3 linked regions of the Homo sapiens genome follow. The protein of the gene in region 1 purifies or fractionates together with the protein of each later gene. This does not show direct contact. Each region holds a gene or a part of one and is shown on either strand. Other genes may lie near its edges.

The links. Proteins that work in one complex are often made in the same cells at the same time.
Region 2: the proteins of SYT1 (region 1) and VLDLR purify together in Homo sapiens (co-immunoprecipitation; 3 studies listed by BioGRID and IntAct, with this or other methods). This does not show direct contact.
Region 3: the proteins of SYT1 (region 1) and EIF2B3 purify together in Homo sapiens (co-immunoprecipitation; 3 studies listed by BioGRID and IntAct, with this or other methods). This does not show direct contact.

What each region holds. Positions count from the first base shown.
Region 1 is NC_000012.12:79,294,747-79,301,784, reverse strand, and holds part of SYT1 (synaptotagmin-1), read right to left. Parts: intron 5,717-7,038; coding exon 5,549-5,716; intron 2,402-5,548; coding exon 2,234-2,401; intron 1-2,233. UniProt on the Homo sapiens protein: Calcium sensor that participates in triggering neurotransmitter release at the synapse. May have a regulatory role in the membrane interactions during trafficking of synaptic vesicles at the active zone of the synapse.
Region 2 is NC_000009.12:2,645,762-2,652,799, reverse strand, and holds part of VLDLR (very low-density lipoprotein receptor isoform a precursor), read right to left. Parts: intron 6,467-7,038; coding exon 6,248-6,466; intron 5,327-6,247; coding exon 5,208-5,326; intron 4,593-5,207; coding exon 4,453-4,592; intron 4,132-4,452; coding exon 3,990-4,131; intron 3,617-3,989; exon of another isoform or gene 2,431-3,616; coding exon 2,284-2,430; exon of another isoform or gene 1,386-2,283; coding exon 1,302-1,385; exon of another isoform or gene 927-1,301; coding exon 846-926; exon of another isoform or gene 21-845; coding exon 1-20. UniProt on the Homo sapiens protein: Multifunctional cell surface receptor that binds VLDL and transports it into cells by endocytosis and therefore plays an important role in energy metabolism.
Region 3 is NC_000001.11:44,976,583-44,983,620, forward strand, and holds part of EIF2B3 (translation initiation factor eIF2B subunit gamma), read right to left. Parts: intron 4,596-7,038; 5' UTR 4,587-4,595; coding exon 4,439-4,586; intron 1,879-4,438; coding exon 1,733-1,878; intron 1-1,732. UniProt on the Homo sapiens protein: Acts as a component of the translation initiation factor 2B (eIF2B) complex, which catalyzes the exchange of GDP for GTP on the eukaryotic initiation factor 2 (eIF2) complex gamma subunit.

The DNA of each region.
Region 1 (7,038 bases):
TAAAATTAATATTTCCCATTAATAACTCCTACAGATACTCAGTAAGTGCAATGGTGAGAAAAAGGATAGCGAAGTAGATAAAAATAGAGGGAAGAGACACAACAAATGAGGAGATGAACACACAAAATGGGGAAAGAGAACACACACACAAAATTAACCAAGAAAAAGGTATGAGAGACCTCTCACTTAGTGAACATTTACCATATGCCAGACTCTATGCTGGGTACTTCATGTTCTATTCTATTTCATCGGTAAGTAAGATAAGGGGTAAATCATGTTAGGCCACTTTCTAGGTTAAAATTCTGAATGGGCAGTTTACCTAAACCCCTAGATTCTAGAGTGAAACCCGTCAGCCTGGTGTTAAGTTTCAAACTCTGCTCGTACTCAAAGATTTCTGAAAGAGGAAACTTGCTCAATGGTCCACATTCCCTTAGCTCAGAAAAAAACATTGCACAATTTTTCAGAAACCCACTGGGTGTGATCTTGGATGTCATTACCACCTGATAATTATCCAGGTGAAAGTAACAAGTGTGAACCATGCACCCTGCACAAGTGGGCATTGTGAAGTACCAGTGGTTCATGTTCTCATATTCAACCAACAAGCCAACCAAACACCAGTCAATTAATAAAACCAATCAGTTAATAAACATTTCTTATGGTCCTACTTTATCACCCAAAAAATTTACACAAAGTCAAACACTTCAACAAAAAAGTCAATGAAACATCCCACTACTTTGTTAAATAATTATAAACATTGTAACTGAATGATCGAATTTTTTTTTTCATGAAGATGTCTGTAACATTACTATTAGTTCACTTATAGGAAAGAACTATCCATAAAATCATATAATTTTAAAACTCGGTATTTTTCCTGGGTATTCTTGAATATCCACAGTAGGGCTAAATCTGTGTCAATGTCTAAGAAAGGTTAGTCAACATTCTTAGATATTGAGACAGTAAATATATATATATATATATATATATATATATATATAATAAGTATACATGAATATTATATACAAAAATACTTAAGCTCTGCTCTCTTTTTTGGAAAGTATAAGTATACATACTTTTTTCCAAAAAAAAGAGCAGAGTTTAACTTAAGTATTTTTGACTCATTTTGTAAAATCAAATAGCAAACAGCAATGTTAGAGTGAAAAGTTCAATTTCAGCATGGGAATTAATAGGCCTGTTCTAAAACCTCATTTCATCATATAGGGGGTATAAAGTTCATAGCCTCAGATTGGTCACAGAAAACCTTAGGCTGAGAGGATTCCCAGGTGATGGACTTGATTGAGTTTCTCTGAAGGCCTGACGTTCTCTCTGATCTCCCTGGTGACCCCAAGAGGCCAGGGAATCCTAGGGACCTGGAGATCCTAAATGACTGAGCTGTCAGCAATCTCTTGCGTAATTACAGCCTTACGTCAGGAACTAAAGAGTGACTGCGAAAGGAGTTGTTTTAGGAATTTGGAGAAGCTAAGGGTTGTTTGCTTTTCTAGTATTGGTCTACTGAAATGTTTGCAGAGAAAAATGCTGGTGCCAGGCAGGCATCGCATAATCAGATACAATTGATTATTATGAAGCTTAAATGCACTAAACATATTGAACTTCCCTTTTCAAGTCATGGAAAAATACTGGGCTAAACTATTAAAACTGGGAATAAACAATGTGAGGAGTAGCATAAAAATGTGAGTCATTTAAAAAATGGATTTAATATCAGGCTTTGTGAATTATATTTGATGTTTGACCAATCATGCTCTCGTATCTTTAGGAGAAACAATGAACTGTCTGTGATATGCAGAAACAATCAAGGAAAAAGTACCATTTTATTTCTGTGTAATAGCTACATAACCTATGCAGAAAACACAAAATGATTGTGGAAAAATGAGAAATAAAATAATTTTTCGTTGTCATTTTAAAGCAGTAGTTTATGAGTGTGTGTGGCCTTTTGTAAGCTTTTAGAAAGAGTTCCTGTGGGCATGTGTGTTTGTTTGTGTCCAGGGTTGCTGTTTCTAGATCCAGTACACAAATGTCTCTCTTCTTTCAGATAACACCCAGAAGACCTGTACACTTTTTAACGAGGTGGTGCAGTGCCCTTGACCCTATTTTATCAGCTGTCAACAACTAGAGGCCCACATCCCCCTTTGTAAAGAGTATTTCTCAATAAGTTATTATATGAGCAGCAACTGGCGAGTACAGCTTGTGATGTTAGAAATGCTAGTAATTCCCTTACCTCTTCCTTCTCAGCACTTTGCAGGTCACGCCATTCCTCAGTTACATGGCCAAAATCCACTGTGTTCATAGGGACTTTAAATTCTCCAATGATGTCATGCTTAGAGAAACGATCAAAATCATATACAGCCATCACTAGGGTTTTGCCACCCAATTCCGAGTATGGTACCTAAATTAAAAGACATGAGGATAAAATATCCAGTCACAAAAATGCTTAAAACATGTTACTTGTTCATGGTGCTTAATTTAATATTTACGTTGCATAAACAGAACAGGGAGATAATTTTGTTTTTGGTTATTTTTTAAATTCAGACTTTTGACAAACTGCTTGAGGCTAAAATTACTTGAGAGAAAATGGGAAATTTTAGTGATTTATTGCCTTATCTCAAAGTTCTAGAAGCTGTTAGCATTATTAATAATGGATCCTGCTGTTAGTTATACTATAAAGCCTTAAGATTAATAAAACAATAAACAAGCCAATTGCATTTGACTATAAGTAAGTTTTTCTTGTAGAATATTTTGTTGTTATTGTTGTTTTAAGTTGTATTGTCAGGGTGTAACTTACTGAGGGGCAAATAACTTATTTCAAATGCTCCATTAACTCTTTCAAGGCATTTAAATGCCACAGTTCAATGGAGCAATGATTTATTAAAGGCTATGCTAGGAGTCTGAAAGGATTGAAATGATATTCACAAGTGCCTCACCTACTCCCTAAAATAATTTGCTGATTGACAAGAACTGACTAGGAAATTGATGTTTTGAATATAAGAGGTGCATTATAATATGGGTTTTGAAGTTCATTCTTGGGTATGACATGCCTTAGGATGAGTGGTGGCAAAAGGCCAAGAACTGATGAATTCTCCAGCTGTTCAAATATATCTGGGACAGATGCTATGGGTTGGGATGTTTATTAGTGACATTTTTAATATTCAGTGAAAGCAGTGCAATCCAAGTAAGCTACACTTCAGTAACTGGGTAGAAATACCTAATTAAGAAATTGTTTAGACTTGTCTTAAAGGTTTGATCAATTTTCATACACTTCCTATTATTTTATCAGTGTAAATGGTTGTCTTATGCTTCAGCAAACATTTCTCAATTAACTCTGTATATTAAGGAGGGAAGAAAAGGAAGAATATTGGGCCATCTACATACAAGAAATTTTAGTTTTCCAAAGAGTTTTTCTTTTCTGTCATTTATTTACCATCTGTTTGGAACCTGATTATTTTATTAAAATGATATGATTAAAAAGTAAGCATCATCCTTTTTCCATTTTAGAAGGAATGGAAAATAAACCCTTCCAAAGAGCTGACTCTCAAAGAAAGAAACAAAATTTTTTAGAGTAAGGATAAACCCTTGAAAATGTTATTGTATATCTAAAATCTCTCTAGACTTTCTAGTGATTGTACTCAAAGAGCAACAGTCAAAAACCTGGACTTGGGGTCAGACAGACCTTGTACCAGATTTGGACTTTCCAACTAAAGGGCCTGGGGCACGTGATTAAACATAAGTTTATTCATCTATTAAATTGTGATAATACTGTAATAATGGCTGCTTCATGGGGCTATTTTAGGGATGAATGAATATATGTAAAACACCTAGCACAGAAGAAGCACTTAAAAATATTTATTGTTTGAATGATTAGTAGCTCCTTCAGATAACTGTTTTGGGGGAAAAGAAGATGAATTAATTTGGGGCATGTTGAGTTCCTGTTAAGTGATTTAAATCCATTGTAAAGCCAGGCTTCTTTAAAGTCTTTTATACTTCCATTCCTGTATCATATTGCCTCTTGGCATTTCAAGATGAGTAATCTACAATGTCTAACCAGTTCTCTAGAAAAATTGAAGTATTTTTTAATATAGCAGAATATATTATACTTTGGATTTATGTATAGTTTGATCAACCTTTCTGAAATAAAATGAAACTTGATAAAAATGTATAGAGAATTCAAAAATTTCAATAATTATACTTGGTTTTATAGAAATTACTAATAAAATTATTAGCATTTTTTAAAGAAATAATAATGTAGGTAATGCAATACAAAACAAAGCCCCAATACATTAGCTCATATAATTTAAGAATTTCCTTACTAAGTTTTGGTCAGAAACTGCTGACCTAAGTTAAGGTTAATAAATAGATGAATAAAACAACTGTGATTACTATTACAATATTTTTAAAATTTTATTTCCATTTTACGTTTCGTAGTATGTTGACTATAGTGATTAAGCTTCATGAGCAGATACTCTTCATGAACTGAGTATTTCCAGAATGTCTTTACTGCTACTTTAAATTCACTGCTTAGGTACAGAAAAACCAGATTTTAAATAAGATTACTGACAATACATGAGGGACCTTTGTCTTGAAAACTCAGAAATTTTAGAGTGAATAGAAAGACACTTCCCCTTTACATAATTGAAAACAAGGTTTGAGAAAATGACTCATGCCCTCATTTTCAATTTATTTCATCCCAGAATGTTTGCCAACACAAGGCATATGCTAAGCCTGGCTGATGGACGTGGTGATTTTGAATTAGCCTGCTGGCATATTCACAGATATTTCATTTTTCAGAAACATATTGTTCTAAGTAATGCATTAAAAAGTTTTTTTCGCACGTTAAAGATATCCACCAAAAGAATTGTTTTTAATGAATGATTTCAAGCCAAGATCCACGAAGATCCTGGAGACCTGCAGGACATGTTTTCCTGATGAGATATTATATGGCTGGAATCTCTCTGTTGTTTGTCAACTGAGGTGCCTCAACAAGATGAAGAACATCAGGGCAGAACCTAGAGTAAAGGAAGAAGGCTAGAAATGCAATAAAAAATATGTTCATATTCCTTTTATTGATTAGTTAAGAAGAATGACTTTGAAGTGCTCAAATTGCCCTCTACACACACAATTTTGTTACAAGAGTCATGTCTATTTGTACCATTTAAGCATTGGGACACAGCTTACTTAATCCTGGGATTGTAACAGATGTACTTATTTTCACAAACTTTGAAATTCAGAAAAATAATGATTTCATTCCTTTGGCTTTATTTCAGGGAGGGATCTCACTTTTTAGATGTGACTATGACATCCTAGTCATGTTCTAGTCCATTCCATTCTGAAATGACTGAACCGAATCCTACTCTGAACACGCTGAAAGGCAATATCGAATGTTGACTGTAGTGAAGATAAGAATTTTGCATATTCTGACTGGAATTATTGTGAGTGCCTGAACAAGCATTCATGTGCATGTCTATGTATGTGTCAGGATGAGATCAGTCTTTTAAGTAAAACAACAAAGGAAAGGTTATAAATAAATGTTAACAAATACCTTGAAAGTAAATTGCTCATTGAAGACAGGATTAAGGGTTTTTCGGTGGACTTTTGTCTCAAATTTCTTCTTCTTATCAGGTAGCAGAAACACTTTCACGTAAGGATCAGATGTGCCCCCCATGTCCAAGGCGGGCAGTTCGGCAGCCTGAATGATCCCTACCAGCAGCTGAAATAAATGACAGAATACAGCATACATAAATATCAGTGGACATTTTGGAAAAGATCGATTTGTTCACAATGCTGCATATTGGGATTTCTCCCTCTTCCTATTTATTTTTAATAAAACTCTGATTCTCTTATGAATCTGAACACAGAAGGCAAATGAACTGAGCTATGTAGACTTCAGAAACCCAATTATGACTGATGCAGGCTCTGGGAAGCCTGGTTTTAAGCACAAAAGAGGCTTTTAAAAGGTTGCTGATTGCAGTTAAATATGGAGTTCATTTTTGCAAAAGAGTTGTAATCAAATAACTTTCCAGTTGCTAAAAGCTCTTGTGCATTGTTTTTCTTTCCAGAGCATGATTTGTAAGTGAAAATGCATTGTTAAGCAATCACAAGTTTGTAATTACAAAGTGGGAAACTTTTATTCTTTATCAAAGCCTCAGGCTAGCTGAGTAGAAATTTCTTAGAAATTGGGTAGCATTTTGAGATAAAAAATAAGATCTTCTAGTTTCTATTATATTTGACCTTCACTGGTGTGCAGACTACATTTATTTTAACTTACAGTAGAATGATTATTATCTATGAGATTCTGTGTTTAAATATAGGACACGGAGTAAAAGAAATGTAATTTCAGCTTCATAGAAAGCAAGGGAGATTAGAGGTGAGGTTTTTTAATGGTGAGTAACTGTGTTTTTTATTTTTTCCAAACACCACAGAACTATTACATTTCTTTAAGTCTGTTTTCTTACTGATGCATTCTTAAGCCTCATTATGAATATTAAGGTATTATGGTATGGTTAATATTTTTGCGAAGAAAAAAAGAGGTGTGAGTAGACTATCATAGATACTCTGCCATTAGAGATTTTGTGTCAACAGACTGATTTAGATCCATATAGGTAACAAAGCAGACTCTTACTGTTATTCAAGGTATATGCTATTTTGTAAATGCAGTAACACCATAGGTTTTTACATCTCAGCCTGAAAAATCTGAGTTCATGCCTTTTTAGCTAGTAGAGTAAAAAAGCAATTCCCCCTCTTAAAAAAAATGCATAACCATTTTAATTGTGACCCACCGTGTACTTAAGTGCATTTTGGCTAGGTGGCTCAACTTTTAACATGGCCCAATAACCTGAATGATTATGTTGTTTCTATTTTAATGCTTCAATATCTTTTTTTTTTTTTGTGGAATCATGATACAACAGTGGCAATAAGAGTGCTAGATTGTAGGTAAACAAAACACAGACAGATGGTCAAAAAACAGCTAAAATAGGCATCGGATTATAAAGACATGATTAGTAAAGGAAACAGTCTGTCTCTTTGTTTGCT
Region 2 (7,038 bases), on another chromosome or scaffold:
TGCTGCCATCACTAAGAGCACTGAAAAAAATCAGAGGGTAGCTAAGTGAGCTAAGTCTAGTATTGGAACATACAAGAAAGGTAATAACGTTCAGGAATCCATAATAATTGACATTAGTAAAAATGCCATGTTTTATGGAGCTAGGATAACTAGAAGTTGGAATACACATGGGCCAGGAGCTTGAAACAAGTTCAGCCCAGAGGTAGCTCTGTGCACTGGAGCTGGACTAGCCACATCCATCCAGGCAAGGGCAGGGTCCTCGGTCCCACCTTAGGCTCACCAAATTAAAATTGCAGAAGGTTCTGGAGAGCTATTCAGGTGGTCCTGGCGTGTTAGCTAAGCTTGGGTCTCTTCATTTAGGACAAAGGTTTTTATAGCAAAGTCCTTAGAATTTGCGTGTCTCGTTTAGAGGTCCTTTTCCATAGGTTTGAAAATTCTTAACTGCTTTTAATTTATCCTCAACAAGTCCTGTAACTCTTAGCATTTAAGCATTTGTGCATCTCCTCTGTATGAAGCATTACACACATTTCAAAGGGGGAACAGAACAGTACACTAGTTAAAGAGACTTATTATAAAAGGGGATAAGCCAGGTTAACAGTGCGGAAGTAGAAAGCATTAACCGTTGAACACTTATCATTGCCAGTTACTGTGCCAAAGGTACAACTGAAGAGAAAGATATGGGCCTTAATTTAGTGTATTATGTGGGGGAGAAAGCGAACGTAATTCAGTGTCATAAATGCTAGACAGCATAAAGGCCCATGAAAGGGGTAGCTCCAGATGAACAAAAAATCTTCATCTGGTATCTAAGAAGTTCTTGAACCCAGACTTGTAGGAAATCTACTTACAGAGAGGAAGAATGGCCCATGCGGCAGAAGTCCCTTTTGGGGGAACACTGACCTCTGATACTGCTGTGGTCACATTGATCCCTACAGAGGAATAAAAGGAATCAGTTTAGAAGGATCTGTATTCAGACTTAGAAATTTACCCATCAGGTAAGGAGCCAAAACCTTTGCATCCAATATTGATGTTCAGTATCTACAACAATTGAACACCAGGAACAACTCTGGCTTAGAAGTATTTGAGTCACATGCTGTAGTAGCCATTTCACTGACAGTTCTCTACTAGAAACCTTTAAGATCAGTCAGGAAAAGATATGCAAGTTTTAAGTCTTTGGTGTTTAAATATAGGTTACCAATTGGGGCAGAAATAGTAGTTAAAGGCTGCATTAATTATTTAAGCTGTAGATACAAAGAGTGTGGCTGTTAGTTGAGATTAACAGTTTGCAGTACTGAACTCAATACCTCCAGGAACTAGTCCACTAGTTGCTGAAATTTCTGTTGTGTTCGTATCTTTTGTCTCACTGTAAGTCACAGTAGTTGCAGTACCTGAATTATAAAAACCAAGAACCTGGTTAATGCCAGGGTTCCAGCATGGCTAGCTGTTTTGTCCAGACAAGCCATGTAAAAGGTTATTTTAAAACCAGGTAAAATAGACAAACCACTGCTGAACTAAGTTGTACAGCTGATGTGTCAACATTGAAATAGCAATCTTCATGCAAAAAAGAGATACATGAAACTTTGGGAAGGACAGTCGGTGTTTGGAATTTGACAATTCAAAATGATGGACAACCACATTTTATCCCTCTAAACAACATCCCATGTTCCTGGAAACTACGAGAAATGTTCTCAAGATGCTCTGGTATACCAGGCATACCAGACTGTCTTGCAACTAATTTCTTGGTAAACTGAGCTAATCCCTGCCTGACCATGAATTACGCTAATAAAAACCTCATCAGCCTCACCATACAAGCTCCTTGATCACACAAATGACTTTAATTTGCCACTTAATCAAAAGTTAAGAACAGAAGACTAAATGCAAATTCAGCCTAAGTGTTATTTTAGGGTAGCGTCACCCACTGAGGCAATGAGGTTTCTGTAACCATGGCCTTCCTTAAGCATAATTTCTGTCCTCCTCCTTTTGAGGAAAAATGTTAAGGCCTCATTTAATTACCTGCAAGTTGGCTAGCTCAGTGCTGTTAAGGGACTAGGTACAAATTAGTGTAAGGTATGTTGACACTTTAGTCTCCTATAAACTCATTTAATGTTGAAATGGGTTAAAGTCAGTTCTAAAGAAATGACATGATAACCCGGCATACAATAGCAGATATCTTCTCAAATCTATTCAAAGAATTAGCTAAGACAGAATTCTTAAAAATCCAAGCTTGTGTCTTATTATATTGCTTGTTGTAGGTTCTACTTGTGGTTGAAACACAAAATGCCTTACTTTGACAGTCTCGGCCATTTTCCTCTACATTGTACCCACTGGGACAGGAACAGGTATATTTTGGAGAGTGATCATTAATCTGTGGTGCTGGCAGGCATAGGTATTCACATCCTCCATTCTCCATGTCTTCTTCACACCAATTTTTACCTAGTCAGGAAAAAAAATACCATTAAAATGGGTATTCCGGTGCCTAGTATATATAAAGCCTTGTTCTACATGTTGAAGACCTGAGTCCTTGCCCCCAAGAGCTTAAACTTGTCTACTCTGCTAATCCTTCAAGTGAGAACAGTATCAAGGAAGAATAAGTATACAGGTACAGGCAGCATGCTCTAAGGACACCAGATAAGGGACCTCTTCGAGATAGACTGTAAAAGTTATGCCTTTAAGAGACAGATGCCAAAAGAGGAGGTGGGGAAGGGAGGTGAGGGACCAGGACTGGCTCTCACTATTTGCCCGAGGTTTAGCGTGAAGGCTCAGAGAAAGGAGACTAGGCATGTTCTCCTGGTTTTCTCTTGACTTGCTCCAACAAAGTGGAAGGAAACTCAGCCTTAGGAAGGTTTGAAGGCTTTATTTAGATAGAACCAGCCAAGTGTTTTCAGCAGGAGATAATATAACCCGATGTGTTTGAGAATCTACACAATCCTATATCAGGTGTGTCACAGGGGGAAAGTAGGTGTTATGAGTTGAATGGTGTTCCTCCCTAAAATTCATATAATGAAGTCCTAGTACCTCAGAATGTGATCTTATTTGGAGATATTGAGGATAGGATATTTACAGAGGTAATCAAGTTAAAATGAGGTCATTAAGGTGGGCTCTAATCCAATATGACTGTTATTACAGCTCACGCCTGTAATTCCGGCACTTTAGGAGGCCGAGGCAGGCAGATTACTTTGGGTCAGGAGTTCGAGACCAGTCTGGCCAACATGGTGAAACCCCATCTCTACTAAAGATACAAAGTTTAGCTGGACGTGGTGGCTCACTCCTGTAGTCCCAGCTACTCGGGAGGCTGAGGCAGGAGAATTGCTTGAACACAGGAGGCGGAGGTTGCAGTGAGCCGAGATTGTGCCACTGCACTCCAGCCTGGGTGACAGAGCAAGAGTCAGTCTCCAAAAAACAGAAAAAGAAAGAAAGCAAGAAAGCTGGACACGAGCATATACAGAGGGACGATGATGTGAAGAGACAAAGGGGGAAGAGCACCATCAACAGACCAAGAAGAGGCCTGGAACAGACCCTTCCCTCACAGCCCTCAAGAGGCACCAACCCTCCTGGCACCTTGATTTCAAACTTCTGGCCTCCAGAGTTTTGAGACAATAAATTTCTGTTGTTTAAGATAGTCTGTGGTACTTCATTGCAAAAATCCTAGCAAACTAACAGTAGAGAAAGCTTGTAGCACAAAAGCTACTTTGGAGGCTACTGCAATAGTCTTGGCAAGAGGGGCTGAAGGCCAAGGGGACATGAATGAAACAGAAATAAAAGCTCTGACACTGAGGCTTGGGAGGAAAGCCAGGAGCTGAAGTTGAGAAGCCATTTCTCTGAGGCAGCAGAAATAAAAAAATAACATGTGAAATGTTTAAGGTAGGGTACAGGAGGGCAAAAGTTCCCTTTTAAAGAAAACTGAGTTGCCAAGAGCTACTGACATCCAGCAGGTTCTGTGTCATGCTGCTTCCCTTAAAGTAGTTATTAAGGACTGTGCTTCTCCACGGTACCTGATGGCTGTACAAGTTCATGATAGACAATGATGTCTTGGGCATCATTCAGGTTGTTGACTAGAGTGGCTAGCTCTGATCCAGTGAATTTATTGGCACCATAGACTGCTTCATTTTCCCCATCTATCCAGTAGACACGATCCTAAAACAGAAGCCCACAATTAGCATGTACATCCAGGATTAACACAAGTCCATTTCTAAGGTCATCATCATTTACTTCTCATTTAATGGACTAAGTTTACTGAATGCTGAACTGGGACACTGGATATAAAACTGTAAAAGAATCAAGTTTAGGTGTGGAGTGCTTCTGGGACTTAGTGTCTGATTTGTACCAGGTTTTAAGTGAAAGCAGTTTCTCAAGCCATGTTCAGCTGCTCTTCCCTCCTCCCGCTATGTCTGTTATTTCTTCTCAAAGTGATATAGTAGCTCAAAGGTACACACTTTGATGTGAGACACATCTTACCTCAAATATTGTTAGTGCAAGAGGATGAGCTAGGAACTCCAGAGACTTTAGTACTATCCTACGATCTTGGCCATTCAAGTCCACGCTGGATAACATGTGCAACTTAGAATCAAGCCAATAGAGGCGACTTTTTATAAGGTCTAGGTAGGAAAAGAATTGTCATTACATGACAAGCCACTACTACTCTGGCTTCCATTAAAAATATCTAATGAATTAATAATCTACTTTCACGGTTCTTTCCCCAGCAGGGTTTCTTAACGGGGTCACCATAAACCTTGCGAAGCAGCATGCAGAGCCTGTATCCACGTTCATTTTTGGGGACTAACAGGGTACCTGAGATTCTCAAAGCAAATGACTTAAGAAATATTACTCACATTACAGAAAATATTAAAAGAGGCTACCATTTTGTTGTTCTCCTCCAAAAAGCCAGAAGAAAACTGTTAAAAGCCTGCAATTCAGGAAATGCTAAGGCACTCATGCCCAGAATATTTAGTATGAGTGCACCCAAGACCCAACGTTCACTGAATTTGTGTCACATATTAGGCCCAGCTGGACAACAGGCCAGTAATTATGGAATGTGTAATTTGTTAATCCACCATTTTACTTGTGTTGTTCAGTTACTCCCATTGAAAATTCCTGCTAGAATTTAGGCGGAAGCAGTAGAGTCATCTGCTAGTCCAGAATTCACCATGGAGATAAATGGAAACACTATGAAGATAGTTGAGTGGGTGGTCGAGAAGGAAGAACATACATACCAAGTGTAATTCCGTTAGGCCACTGGATATCCGCTGTCACCAGTGGACGTCTATCGAATCCATTCATTCCTGCTTTTTCTATTTTAGCTGGTTCACCCCAGTCTGACCAGTAAACAAAGCTGTGAAAAATTAAATGAGAAATAAGCCTCAGTGGTTTAGAAGGAATAAAGTTGTAGTAGCTGGAAACAAAAATTTAAAATTTGAGCAGAAAACTCAAGGCATTCTCTAGTGACAAATAGTAACACTTAAGGGTCTAAATTATGTTCTAGGTAAATAAAATTGAATATTAAGAATCTACAAGCTCATTATTAACTATAATAATCTATGTTTGTCTGACATTTAAATTTCGGCCCAAAGTCACAAGGTTATGTTTCCTTTTTAAAAGGTCAGTTCTTACAGAGGAGTGCAAGACGAACATCCTTCAAATTTCATAGCAGGGGTTGGCTGGCTGACTGAGTTCTAATGAGGCTGCACGGGGGCCAGTTGTGATGACAACTACAGCCTTAGTCAACTTCCTGAGCTGCTCTTCTATGTTACTTAGTGGCAATTTACAGAACCCCCTTAGTGAAATGTTTCTAGAAAGGTCTGTTTATTTCTGCTGGACTTTCAGACAACTTGCACACTTAGATGCAATGTGGTTACCCAAATCCTCACAATTCAGGCTGTCGTTTAGGTTTGATCATCCAGAGCTAGCCCAGCAAAGCTTTCAGTCAAAAATTAAAAAATCACTTGCGTAGAAACTGGGTGGACAAAAGGGTTCAGATACAGCTTTTGGTACACACATCAAATCAGGAATGTTAATTCATTAATGTCAGCCAGCAATCAGTCATACGAGAGTCAGACAGGAGGACCTGTCATATAGATAAGGACATCCCAGGGTCACTCACCTGGGGCAAAACTGATATCTTAAATTAGAATTCTAATTCTTTGTTGCAGAAGGCTCATAAACCTTGAGATTTGAGTACTAATTCAGGTATGAGAAAGCTCCTGACCTACACAGATACCATTCCAAAGTCTGTGATGGAAAACAGACTACAAACCCAGACAGTGGGTCCACAGCTATGGAGGCAGGCTCTCGCAAGTCAGAGTTAAACAGGAACTTCCTCTTGGTTCCATCTAGGGTAGCTACTGAAATAGTCTTAGAAGCCGCATCAGTCCAGTAGATGGTCTTGTACACCCAATCAACAGCAATGGCTGCAGGATTATAGACATTGTCGATCATTTTAACATGTCTACCAACCTTGTCATCAATTGAGGCACTGAAACAGAATAGGTCACAAGAAATTTAAGAGTTTGACACAATTAGAGCTTGGAGAATGGACTTTTTGCTTACAAAATGGTCAATGACTTTGTTCAGAAAGAAATCCAGTTAACACCACAGCTCACCACTCAAATTATTTAACCATGCTGCTTACTGATCCTAAATTAATAATGCTGTAGATTATCTAGTTGCTGGTATGTATTCTATATACAAGAACAACAAATTTCTAAGTGAAGCTATTTGTTTCAGTATCCATCATCTGAGTTTCTATAGTTCCCATTAAGAAAAGGCTGTACTACCATTTCTATTTGTAGCAACAATGAACAGTTCTCAATTAACTGTAGAGAAAAGGGAGAAAATATAAAAAATATGAAAGATGTCATCTTTTACTTCATAGACAATTGTTAGTTTCTAATTAGGAAGTGATAACAGTTTAATAAAGAATTAGCATTAGATTTAATGTCCCCAGGTAATTCGATGCTAGATGGGGCTAGACACAAAAGAAACTCCTCCAAACTATCCCACAGATCACTTCCCAAGTGACAATGACTTATGTCAAGACACCACAAA
Region 3 (7,038 bases), on another chromosome or scaffold:
AAAAAGACCTGCAGAACAATGCTCATAATAGCTTTATGCATGATAGCCAAAAATTAGAAACAACCCAAATAACTGTCAATAGGAGGATAGATAAATAAATAGTAGTATATTCATTCAATGGAATACTACTAAGCATGAAAAGGAACAGATTAGTTATACTTTCAATAACATGAAAGAATCTGAAAAATATGTTGAACAAAAGAAGCCAGAACAAAATTGTATGTTTCCATTTATATGAAGTTTATAAGCAAATAAAATTAATACATAGTGATAGAAACAGAAGAGTGGTTGACTCAGAAGATCAGAGACTTACTAGAAAGAAGCACAAAGGAACTTTCAGGGGTGATGGAATTGTTCTAGATTTGGATAATGGTAATCTAGGTGTATATTTAGTATCTGTGCATTTTACTGTGTATAAATTATTCCTCAATAAAAGGGGTGGGAAAGCCATGTACATATTTGCATTAATTTTTTGTTTTATAGTACAAAAGTCGGTTGAAAATAACACATCCGTTTAATCACCAGAAATAACAGAAGAAAGTTTGTCTCCCATTTCAAGTAATATGGCAACATCACAACGATTGAATTTTTTCCAAAGAAAAACAATTTTAGAACAATCTACAGTGGATCTTTCTCAGCTCATGGGCCACAAACCATTGGGGAGACTATGTTCTCATATCTATGTGCTCCTTAGTTTCTTAACCAAAGGTTAACTAAAAGTTCAAATATTACATGGGAGGTCTATGAATTTTTGAACGTTCCTTTGTACTTCTTTCTAGTCAATCCTCACCTGCAGAGTCAACTGCTCCTCTGATTTATACATTAACATTGCTTGTTCACAAACTTCATATGAATGGAATCTTTTGAAGTACATTTAGAGTATATCTTTTTTTTTTTTTTGAGATGGGATCTCACTCTGTTGCCCAGGCTGGAGTGCAGTGGCATGATCTCGGCTCACTGCAACCTCCACCTCCTGGGTTCAAGCGATTCTCCTGCCTCAGCCTCCCCAGTAGCTAGGATTACAGATGTGCACCGCCATGCCCAGCTAATTTTTGTCTTTTTAGTAGAGACAGGGTCTTACCACGTTGACCAGGCTGGTCTCAAACTCCTGACCTCAAGTGATCCACCTGCCTTGGCCTCCCAAAGGGATTACAGGCATAAGCCACTGTGCCTGGCCTAGAGTATGTCTTTTTTTTCTTTTTTAATAAAAATGTGCTATTACTCAAAAACATTGGAAACCAGTGACTATGACAAATTAATGTCTAAATCTTTACTAGTAACCAAATCAAAGAGCAACTGAAGAGTACATGGGTAACAAAGTATGTGATGTAAAAATATATCAGAAATAAAGTTTTGTAAACTATAATGCACTGGGGGCCAGGCGTGATGGCTCACGCCTGTAATCCCAGCACTTTGGAAGGCCGAGGAGGGTGGATCACCTGAGGTCAGGAGTTCGAGTCTAGCCTGGCCAACATCCCATCTATACTAAAAATACAAAATTAGCCAGGCACGGTGGCGTATGCCTGTAATCCCAGCTACTTGGGAGGCTGAGGCAGGAGAATTGCTTGAACCCGGGAGGTGGAGGTTGCAGTGAATTGAGATCACACTACTGCACTCCGGCCTAGGTGACAGAGCGAGGTTCTGTCTCAAAAAAAAGACTATAATGCACTGGGAAAACATAAGATATCATCTATCTTCAATAAACAAGAAGAGTCAAAAAATTGCTTTTCACCTTAAGTTTTGGATATATGTAGCGCAAAGAATCTGCAGTTCCCATGTCAGCGTCATCAGGAATACACACAATATCTGGCTTCATTTTCATCTTGAATTCTGCACATAGAGCCTTTTGAACATCCCTGGTTGTAACCACAATGACTTCTATAGGACAAAAGAAAAAAAGAAAGAAAAACAAAAACTTACTCATATAGACAGTGGTTCCATTATTTCAATTAGATTTGGTCTATTTCTAGGTGTAATAACAACTGCTAATATTATTGTGCCTTTTCAATATATTTTACCTGCATTCCCCCAATAAATTCTTTTTTTTTTTTTTTTTTTTTTTTTTTTTTTTACAGACAGGGTCTCACTCTGCCACTCAGGCTGGAGTGCAGTGGCACTGTCGCAGTTCACAGCAGCCTCAACCTCCCAAGATCAGGCAATCCTCCCACCTCAGCCTCCCAAGTAGCTGAGACTACAGGCATGTGCCACCATGCTTGGCTAATTTTTGTATTTTCTGTAGAGATGAGGTTTCGCTCTGTTGCCCAGGCTGGTCTCCAACTCCTGGGCTCAAAGGATCCGCCAGCCTTGGCCTCCCCAAGTGTTGTGATTACAGACGTGAACCACTGCATCTGGCCTCCCCCCAATTAATTCTTAGAACAATCTCATCTTACAAATGAGGAATCTTGGATTAAAAGACATGCTGGCTGGGCGCAGTGGCTCATGCCTGTAAATCCCAGCACTTTGGGAGGCCGAGGCAGGCGGATCACTTGAGCCCTGGAGTTCAAGACCAGCCTGGGCAACATGGCAAAACCTTGTCTCTATAAAAAAACTCCAAAAAACCAGAGGTTTAGGTGGGAGGATTGCTTGAGTCTGGGAGGTGGAGGTTGCAGTGGGCCAAGATCACCCCACTGCACTCCAGCCTGGGTAACAGAGTGAGTCTGTCTCAAAACAAACAAACAAACAAAAAAAAACCTCAGGTCTATATGAATGGTGCCCACACTTTAATATATTATATGCCACTTCTCCTTGATATGAAGAATTCAGAAGAACATTAATCAAAAATACAAATGGGAAGAAATATAAAAAACACTCTGGGAAGCCAAGGCAGGCAGATAACTTCAGCCCAGGAACTCAAGACCAGCCTGGGTAACGTGGCGAAACCCTGTCTCTGCCAAAAAAAAAAAAAAAAAAAAAAGGAGGAAAGAAAAATTATCCAGGTGTGGTGGCATGCATGTAGTTGCAGCTACTCAGGAGGCTAAGATGGGAGGATCGTTTGATCCCAGGAGGCAGAGGTTGCAATGAGCTGAAATCATGCCACTGTACTCCAGCCTTGGACGACAGAGCAAGACTCTGTCTCTAAAAAACAAAAAAACCAAAGGGGGCCATGCGTAGTGGCTCACACCTGTAATTCCAACACTTTGGAAGGCCGAGACAGGCAGATCACTTGAGGTCAGAAGTTCAAGACCAGCCTGGACAACATGGCGAAACCCTGTCTCTATTAAAAATACAAAAAAATTAGCCGGGAGTGGTGGTACACGCCTGTAGTCCCAGGTACTCGGGAGACTGAAGCAGGAGAATTGCTTAAACCTGGGAGGTGGAGGTTGCAGTGAGCTGAGATCACACCACTGTACTCCAGCCTGGGCGACAGGGTGAGACTCCAACATTTTAAATCTTCATTCAATACAAAGAGAGAGCTATTAAGCTACCACCCTTCCTATTGGAGGCAACTCTAATAATGGAATGAACACTGGATCACAAGACTGGGCCTCAGGCTTTGGCACCCTGATTTATTACATCTAAATATAGGACACCTCAAACTCAATGTGACCAAAGCTGAACTCATTATTTTAATGAAAATAAAATTCATTAAAACCTTTTCCTGGCCAGGCACGGTGGCTCATGCCTGTAATCCCAGCACTTTGGGAGGCCGAGGTGGGCAGATCACGAGGTCCTGAGATCGAGACCATTCTAGCTAACATGGTGAAACCCTGTCTCTACTAAAAATACAAAAACTTAGCCGGGCATGGTGGAAAATGCCTGTAGTCCCAGCTACACAGGAAGCTGAGGCAGGAGAATCACTTGAACCCGGGAGAGGTTGAACCCTGGCGGAGGTTGTAGTGAGCCAAGATCGTGCCACTGCACTCCAGCCTGGGTGGCAGCGTGAGACTCTGTCTCAAAAAAAAAACACCTGTTCCTTGTCTCCTATTCCTTTTCCTACTTAATGGCATAACTATCTACCTAGCTACCCAAGCAAAAAGTAGAGAGGATCACTAGACTTTAAAGTTCTGGAAGTCAGGGCCTGAGCTGTCTTTTCAATTCTGTACCTCCGTGTTTAATATATAACCTGGTACTTACATCAAAACAAAATTTAAAACATATATATATTGAATATCAGATAATATAAATATTACCTGGTACATAATAGATTCTCAGTAAGTACTGACTATGAGGCATTTAAGAGTCTCAATCTGCTCTTTCTGATATCTTTACAGAGTTCGTCTTGGATCATTGTGGACATCAGCTCCATAACAACAACACTTAGTGCTATCCTCTCAACCTTTTTCACACAGCAATAGAGTACTCCTACATTCCTTAAAGAAGGCAGTCTTCAGCCAACGAGTTCTAGTCACCCTCTCTCATTCTCATAACGCTGACAAATCATGGGGATCAAATCTCCTAAAAGTTTTATGAGTTCACAGCTCACTTTGTCATAGCTCACCTTCAAATCCAACACGCTCAAGCAGGTTCAATGGGTACCAAATTAAAGGTTTGTTCCCAACTGGAAGCAGAGGTTTGGGAATGCTGGAAGTTAGGTCTGTCATCCGAGATCCTCCACCTACTGCCATCACTACTGCTTGAAATTCCATTTTTACAAACTGCAAGTACAGAAAAAACAATTAACAGAAAAAAAACAATGTAACAAAAATCAAAGCACACATACTACTAGCCTATTTTTATTTAGGTTACTGATACCCACTATGTCAAATGCATAATTCCTAACTCTAGCAATCACAGTAAGAAAAGCTTAGCTGCAGATAAACATTATGTCTACCAATATGTATTCTCAGTTCTATCCTTGGTAAAAGTGGGAGGATAGGAATGCAGGGGCTTTGCCCTTGAGTTATTCACAATTAAGTGGAGAAGACAAATTCAGTAAATCACAATATATGTCATTAGTGCCACAGCAGAAAAATATCCAAGATACAGTGGGCATACAATAAAAGGAACACCTAGTTTTCATTGAAAACACAGAGAAGTTTTTATAGAAAGTGATGCTTGAGCTGACTCTGAAGAAGTAAGAGTTTACCAAGTGGACTTCTGATGTGTGAATTTTTATTCTTTGAAAATATTAGGCTGGGTGAGGTGGCTCACATCTGTAATCCCAGCACTTTGGGAGGCTGAGGTGTGTGGATCACATGAGCTCAGGAGTTCGAGACCAGCCTGGGCAACATGGCGAGACCCCATCTCTACCAAAAATACAAAAAATTAGCCAGGGGTGGTGGCTTGTGCCTATGGTTCCAGCTACTTGGGAAGCTGAAGTGGGAGGATCATTTGAGCCTGGGAGGCAGGTGTTGCAGTGAGCCGAGATTGAGATTGGACCACTGCACTCCAACCTGTGTGACAGAGTGAGATCCTGTCTCAAAAAAAAAAAAAAAAAAAGAGAGAAAAAAGAAAATATTAAAAGATGCCTGACTAGAATTAACAGCAGAAACACAAGCATGTTAGGCTTCTGAAAAGTATGAAATGACTTAAGACTCCTCCAATAATTCAGCCATCGGCTCATCTTATTCCTCCAATTTTTAAAGATATCACTATAAACACAAACGTAGGCTTGTATCTGAACCTAGATTTACAGAACACAATTATAAAAACAAACCAAACTGTTAATTCCTTTTTTCAAACTCAAGGTAATAAACAAACCTATTTGACTTTGAAAAGAATCTCTTTACAGAAACTACCACAGAACAGAGGCACAGTAGAAGGTCATAAATCTTTATTTATGTATTTATTTTTGGAGATGGAATTTCACTCTTGTTGCCAGGCTGGAGTGCAATGCCGTGATCTCGGCTCACTGCAACCTCCACCTCCCAAGTTCAAGCGATTCTCCTGCCTCAGCCTCCCGAGTAGCTGGGATCACAGGCATGGGCCACCATGCCTGGCTAATTTTGTATTTTTAGTAGAGATGGGGTTTCACCATGTTGGCCAGGCTGGTCCCAAACTCCTGACCTCAGGTGATCCACCGGAGTCGGCCTCCCAAAGTGCTGGGATTACAGGTGTGAGCCACGTGCCCATCCTATTTATTTATTGTTTATTTAGAGACAGAGTCTTGCTCCATTGCCCAGTCTGGAAGTGCAGTGGTAAGATCATGGCTCACTGCAGCCTCAACCTCCTGCACTAAAGCAATCCTCCTGCCCCAACCTCTGGAGCAGCTGGGACTACAGGTGGGTACCACCATGCCTGGCTTTTTTTTTTTTTTTGAGACGGAGTTTCTCTCTTGTTGCCCAGGCTGAAGTGCAGTGGCACGATCTCAGCTCACCACAACCTCTGCCTCCCAGGTTCAAGTGATTCTCCTGCCTCAGCCTCCCAAAGAGCTGGGATTATAGGCATGCACCACCACGCCCAGCTGCCCAGCTAATTTTGTATTTTTAGTAGAGACAGGGTTTCTCCACATTGGTCAGGCTGGTCTCGAACTCCCAACCTCAGGTGATCTGCCCACCTTGGCCTCCCAAAGTGCTGGGATTACAGGTATGAGCCACTGCACCTGGCCGCCTGGCTAATTCTTTTAATTAATTTTTTATAGAGATGGGGTTTCACTATGCTGCCCAGGCTGGTCTCAAACTCCTGGCCTCAGGCCTCCTGCCTGGGCCTCCCAAAGTGCTGAGATTAGAGGCATGAGCCACTGCACCTGACCGATCTTTACTGATTTAAACTGAAAGTACTTTCTCTTACAATGATGTAATTTTAAGAACAAATGTGTTAAAATGTAACGTTCAGAAGAAACAATCTATTCAACATCAAATTGCCAAATAATGTTGCAACTTTACTATAATTATTATTACTCCTGGGCCCAGCACATCAACATCTAAAGTGCAGCACTTAACACCTACTATACCCAAGGCACAAAGTGAAGGCTCCTGCATAACATTCACAATGTAAAGATATGGTCATGTAGATTCTAGCAAGCATTGCCTCAAAGTGTAATTTAATTTCATTTTGGTATTATATAACATCCACCACATCAAATGTTATTATGAAAAGAGCACTGGACCCTTAAGAGTCAAAAGATGAGCTGGACGTGGTGGCTCACGCCTGTAATCC